Homo sapiens: one gene and its partner. The protein of the gene in region 2 purifies or fractionates together with the protein of the main gene of each other region. This does not show direct contact. Each region holds a gene or a part of one and is shown on either strand. Other genes may lie near its edges.

What was found.
Region 1: the proteins of IFT81 (region 2) and CEP44 purify together in Homo sapiens (affinity purification with mass spectrometry; 3 studies listed by BioGRID and IntAct, with this or other methods). This does not show direct contact.

What each region holds. Positions count from the first base shown.
Region 1 is NC_000004.12:174,290,411-174,293,910, reverse strand, and holds part of CEP44 (centrosomal protein of 44 kDa), read right to left. Parts: intron 1-3,500. UniProt on the Homo sapiens protein: Centriole-enriched microtubule-binding protein involved in centriole biogenesis. In collaboration with CEP295 and POC1B, is required for the centriole-to-centrosome conversion by ensuring the formation of bona fide centriole wall.
Region 2 is NC_000012.12:110,141,357-110,144,856, forward strand, and holds part of IFT81 (intraflagellar transport protein 81 homolog), read left to right. Parts: intron 1-2,025; coding exon 2,026-2,189; intron 2,190-3,500. UniProt on the Homo sapiens protein: Component of the intraflagellar transport (IFT) complex B: together with IFT74, forms a tubulin-binding module that specifically mediates transport of tubulin within the cilium. Binds tubulin via its CH (calponin-homology)-like region.

The sequences.
Region 1 (3,500 bases), on a different chromosome or scaffold from region 2:
CACACTTAAGGCTGAGAAACTGTATACTTCCCCCAAAGACTGGGAATAACACGAGGATGTCCTATCTCACCACTCCTATTCAACAGTGTTCCAGAAGTCCTAGCTAGTGAAATGAAGCAAGCAAAGGAAATAAAATACCTTAGGAAGAAAGGAATAAAGTGGTCTTCATTTGCAAAAGACATGATTGTTTATTTAGGAAATGCTAAAGAATTAACAAAAAAAACCCCCTAAAAGTAAAAAGTGAGTATAGCAAAGTCACAGTATATAAGGTTAATATACAAAAGTCAAATGTTTTCCTATATACTGGCAATAAATGATTAGAATGAAATATAAAACTAAAAACACCATTATCATAGCACAAAAAACACTTATAAGTCTAACAAAATATGTAAATGATCTGTATGTGACAAATTACAAAACTATGAAAGAAATCAAAGAAGGTTTTAGCTAGAAAAGGATAGTGGAACAGGACCTCCCCAGCCCTTGTCCTTCACAGAAACACCAATTTAGCAACCATCTATGTATAAAAGTGCCCTGATGGGTCCAAGTAGAAGGCTGTGACATCCTTCTGGAGTCCAAGACTGATAGAAGCCATTTTGAGAAGGCAGAATCATGCCCCAGTAGCAGGCATGTGACTACAGAACTGGCTCCAGACCCAGCAGCAGCCTCATCAGCATGTGGGCTTCAACTCACCTGTCCAAGGTCTCACAGGAAGACTTGTTTGTCTGGGAACCCAGAAGGAACCACACCCACCCAAGCCCCAGTAACAGGCCCACAACCGCAGACCTGATTTTGAACATGTAAGCAGACCCACAACCTGGCTCCACCTAAGTGACTGTGGTTTGGAAGTCAGTCTCACCAAGGGACCCAGCAAGAGAAGATCTTCATCTACTGAAATCACTCTGTTTAGTACAGAAGTGGGAACTGCTCCTTCAAATGTACAGACACCAATGAAAGACTCAAGGGATTATTAGTAAATACAACATGCCAAAGGAAACCAATAAGGTTACAGAAACTGACTATAACAAGATGAAGATCCATGATCTGCTTGACAAAGAATTCAAAATAATCATCTTAAGCTCAATGAGCTACAAAAACAAACAAACAAATAAACAAACCCAGATAGAAAATGAAATAAAAATCAGGAAAACAATACATGAACAAAAAGTTCAATAAAGGAGAAGCATAAAAAAGAACCAAACAGAAATCCTAGAGCTGAAGGATACAATGACTGAACTAAAAAATTCAATAGAAGGCTTCAACAACAGACTCAATCAACCAAAAGAAAGAATCAGCAAACCTGAACACCGGTCATATGAAATTATACAATTAGAGGAAGAAATATTAAAAAGAATAAAAAGTGAAATGAAGTAATACTACGGGACTTATGGTACACCACTAAGTAACTTAATAAACACATTATAAAAGTTCCAGAAGGCAAAAAGACAGAGAGAAAGGGGGCAGAAAGCACATTTAGATTATGGCTGAAAACTTACCAAATCTAGGGAGGAAAATGGACATCCAGACTCACGAAGCCCAAAAGTTCCCAAATAGGTTGAAGCCAAAGAGGTCTGTACCAATAGACACTATAATGAATTTGTCAAAATTCAAAGACAGAGAAAAAATTTTGACAGCAGTGACAGAAAAGTAACTTATTTCATATAACAGAGCCTCCATAAAGGTATTGGTGAATTTCTCAGCAGAACACTTGCAGGCCAGGAGAGAGGGAATGACATATTCAACATACTGAAAGTAAAAAAAGAAACCTGCCAACTGAAAATAATTACCTGAAAAAACTGTCTTCAGGAATGAAGGAAATAGCCAGGCATGGTGGCTCACACCTGTAATCCCAGCACTTGAGGAGGCTGAGGGCAGGCAGATTGCTTGAGCTCAGGAGTTCAAGACCACCCTGGCAAACATGGTGAAATCTTGTCTCTACAAAAAATACAAAAATTAGCCAGTCATGGTGGTGCATGCCTCTAGTCCCAGCTACCTGGGAGGCTGTGGTGGGAGGCTGACTTGAGCCCAGGAGGTTGAGGTTGCAATGAGCTGAGATCATGTCACTGCACTCCAGCCTGGGCAACAGAGCCAGACCTGGAAAAAAAAAAAAAAAAAAAAAAAAAGAAAAGAAAAAGATAAAAGAATAAAGAAAACATGAAAACTTCCTCAGATTAAAAAACTCAGGGAGTTTGTCACTTTTAGACATGCCCTAACAAGAAATGCTAACAGGAGATCTTCAAGTTAACTGAAAAGATACTAAACCAACAGTATGAAAGCATATGAAAGTATACATCTCACTGCTAAAAGCAAACATGAAAACAAACATGGAATATTGCAATACTGAAATCTGTGGCACGTAAATCTCATTGAACACTAGTATATAAATTAAAAGACAAAAATAGTATGAGTAACTACAACAACCACAGAAATTTGTTAATAGAAACAATATAGAAAGAAGTAAAATCTGAAATCAATTACATACATTGGTGAGGAAGAGGGGGGAGAAGTGTAGAGATTCTGAATATGAATGAAGTTGTTACTAGCTTTAAAAAGCCTGCTATGACTACATAATATTTGATGCAAACCCCATAGTAACCAAAATAAAAAGTATAGTAAATAAACAAAAAAAAGAAAAAAATCAAAGCATTCTACTACAATCATCAAATCACAAAGACAACAAACAAGAGAAAAACAGGAGAAACAGAAAGCAAATAGAAAACAATGAATAAAATGGAAACAATTAAGTACTTAATTATTAAAAATTATTACTTTAAATTTTTAATAATTAAGGGCTCTCAGTAGACATGGAATGGCTGAAATGGATAATAAAAACAACACTCAACTATACGCTATCTACAAGAGACTCTAACATTTAAGGACACACGTAGGCTAAAAGTGAAGGGATTGAGAAAGATATTCCATGCAAACTATAACCAAAAGAGAGCAGGGTGGCTATCTATATCAGACAAAATAGACTTTAAGTCGACAACTGTCAAAAGAGACAAAGAAGGCATTATATAATAGTAAAAGGGTCAATTCAATAGAAAGATACAACAACTAAAAATACATATGCACCCAACATCAAAGCACCTTAAAATATACAGTGAACATTGACAGATTTGAAGGAAGAAATAGATATCGATACAATATAGAAGGAGACTTTGATACATCACTCTCTATAATGTACAGGTCATCCAGACAGAATGCCAACAGCAAATATTGATAGAATTGGAGGAAGAAATAGATATCAATACAATACAGAAGGAGACTTTGATACGTCACTGTCTATAATGTACTGGTCATCCGGACAGAATACCAACAAGTAAATTGCAAACTATACAACACTATAGACCAAAGACCTAACATGCATATACAGAACATGAGACCCAACCATAGCAAAATAATCATTCTTCTCAAAAGGACATGAAACATTCTCTATAACTGATCACAGCCTAGGTCACAAAACAAGTCTTAACAAATTTAAGAAGACTAAAAACATT
Region 2 (3,500 bases):
CACTTTCTCTTCTCTTCCTTTCTCTAATCCTGAAAAAAGAAGGAATAGTGAAGTAATGAATGGAAAACTTAGAATTTGCAGTTAATAAAATTTTACATGTTAATATATGGTTAGCACGATGGAACTAAAAATAGTTTTAAGGCTTTGGGCCAGATGTATTATGCTTTGGGCCAGATGTATTATGCAATCTATTACACAGATTACTTAAACCAGAAAGCCCATGTGTTAAAAATTTGAGCCAGGCCAGACGAAGTGGCTCACGCATGTAATCCCAGCACTTTGGGAGGCCCAGGCAGGCGGATCACTTGAGGTCAGGAGTTGCAGACCAGCCTGGCCTTAACATGGTGAAACCCTGTCTCTACTAAAAATACAAAAAATTAGCCGAGCTGGTAGTGTGCGACTAATTCCAGCTACTCAGGAGGCTGAGGCAGGAGAATCGCTTGAACCCAGGAGGCAGACAGAGGATGCAGTGAACCCAGAATGCACCACTGCACTCCAGCCTGAGTGACAGAGCAAGATTTCATCTAAAACAAAAAACAAAAAACATTCAAGTCAGAATTTGTAAATGTGTAAATGGAAAGATATGAAATAAACTTTGTAAATCTCTCTAGGCTGGGAATTTAAAACAAGATGGTTATTCACTGAAAATCTGTGTGTATAGTTGTCCAACTGCAAAAATAAGAAAACTAAAATCTTAAAAATATAAATTGCCACTTAACTGTAAACTAATAATACTTTACAAAATAAAAAATACCAAAACATGGAAAACTTAAAACATTTATGTGTAGGTAGATACTTTGTTTCTTTTTTCTTTTGTTTTTTTGAGACAGAGTCTCCCTCTATCCCCCAGGCTGGAGTGCAGTGATGGTGACACGATCTTGGCTCAGTGCATCCTCTTCCTCCCAGGTTCAAGCGATCCTTGTTCCTCAGCCTCCCAAGTAGCTGAGACTACAGGCATGTGCCACCATGCCCGGCTAATTTTTGTATTGTTAGTAGAGACAGGGTTTTGCCATGTTGCCCAGGCTGCTCTCGAACTCTAGACCTAGGTGATCCACCCACCTCGGCCTCCCAAAGTGCTGGAATTACAGGCGTGAGCCACTGCACCTGGCCTGTTACTCTTTTTTAGATTTTAACTTGTGGTGCTTTTAGTAATGTCTTCATTGGCTTGAAGCTGACAAATGATAATGAATTATCATTTATGAACTGTTATAATAGAAATATAAATTGTTCTGGGTACAGTGTAATCCCAGAACTTTGAGAGGCTGGGATCACACCTGTAATCCCAGCACTTTGAGAGGCTGAGGCAGGTGACTGCTCAAGCCCAGGAGTTAGAGACCAGCCTGGGCAACATGGCAAAACCTCGTCTCTACAAAAAAAAATACAAAAATTACCTAGGCGTGGTGATGTACACCTGTGATGCCAGCTACTTCCAGCTACTCAGGAGGCTAAGGTGGGAGGATCACTTGAGCTGTGAAGGTTTAGGTTGCAGTGAGCTGAGATAGTGCCACTACACTCTAGCCTGGGTGACAGAGCAAGACCCTATCTCAAAAAAATAAAAAATACATATGTATATATATAGCATTAAAAGTATTCCAAAAGAAAAAAAATACATGATCATCTGTATAAAAGAGCACCTGGGTTAGATTTTATTTGTGTTATCATTTGGTTCATGGGTCTCTTAAATGCTTAGAAGGTAAAATATGACCCAACAATGTATCTGGCTCAGCACATGTTATTTTTGCGTATTGCGGGATATAAAAGAATTAGGTTATAATTTGAAAGGGTCATAATAGCACTTTTTCTATAATTATTTAAATATTCTTCCATGTAAATTATGTTTCTTCATTTTCATTGTAATTAACAATAAAATATTTCAATGGCCAATCTTTTATTGTACTATGCTATATATTATACAGTTTGTTTTCAACAAATATGCCGTATCCAGGTCTTATATTTAAAATAGTATACAGAATATCACTGTACCTACTCTTTTGGGCTGAATATTTATTTATTTTATTTTTAAAGGTTTAATGAAGAGGCTAGAGGAGGAGATAAAATTTAATTTATATATGGTAACTGAAAAATTTCCTAAAGAATTAGAAAATAAGAAAAAGGAATTACATTTTTTACAAAAAGTAGTTTCAGAGCCAGCTATGGGCCATTCTGATCTTCTTGAACTTGAATCTAAAGTAAGTGAGAATCATCTTTTTATAGCTCTCAATTTTATCTGATCCCCAGTCCTATAAAATTATGTGAACTGCTTTCTGTAGTATCCCACTATTGACTCTTAAATTAACCTGTGCTAAGAGTTGACAACTCTTATGAGGAATTGTCCTTTATGAGGAATTATAGAATGTTATGCTATTACTTAATCCACATGATGTTATGAAAACATAATCAATTGATTAGCAAATGAAGTAACTTAAATATGTAAATTAATGCATATGAATTGACCAGTGGGTTTATGTCTTCATAATGTAAGCATTTAGATGGGAAATTTGGAAATATTTTAATTGTCATTAATTTTTATTTCCAAGCAAAATATTATAGCAATTTTATATTTAAAGCTAATATTTTTATTAACCTTGTATACCTGCCTTGGAATTACTAAATATTGTAATGCTTATTGAAAGCTGGTATCAGGTTATACCTTTTTTTTTTTTTTTTTTTTTGAGACAGTACTTGCTCTGTTGCCCAGGCTAGAGTACAGTGGCACAATCTTCTCAGCTCACTGCAACCTCTGCCTCCTGGGTTCAAGTGATTATCCAGCCTCAGCCTCCCAACTAGCTGGGATTACAGGCACGAACCACCATGCCCGGCTAATTTTTTGTTGTTGTTGTTGTTTTTGTTGTTGTTGTTTTGTTTTTTGTTTTTTTTTGAGACAGAGTCTCGTTCTGTTGCCCAGGCTGGAGTGCAGTAGCGTGATCTCGGCTCACTACAACCTCCGCTTCCCGAGTTCAAGCGATTCTCCTGCCTCAGCCTCCTGAGTAGCTGGGATTACAGGCACGCGCCACCACGCCTGGCTAATTTTTGTATTTGTAGTAGAGACAGGGTTTCACCGTGTTGGTCATGCTGGTCTCAAACTCCTGACCTTGTGATCCACCCATCTCAGCCTCCCAAAGTGCTGGGATTACAGGCATGAGCCACCGCACCAGGACTTGTTTTGTTTTTTGAGACGGAGTCTTGCTCTGTTGCCTAGACTGGAGTGCAGTGGTGAGATCTCAGCTCCCTGCAACCTCTGCCTCCCGGGTTCAAGCCATTCTCCTGCCTCAGCCTCCCAAGTAGCTGGGACTACAGATATGTGCCACCATGCCTGGCCAATTTTTTTATTTTTAGTAGAGACGGGGTTTTGCCATTTGTCCAGGCTGGTCTTGAACTCCTGACCTCAGGTGATCTGCCCGCCTCAGCCTCCCAAAGTGCTGGGATTACAGGTGTGAGCCACTGTGCTTGGCCTGATTATACCATTTTTGTTCCCTAGAATTAAAATGCTAGGTCAGGTG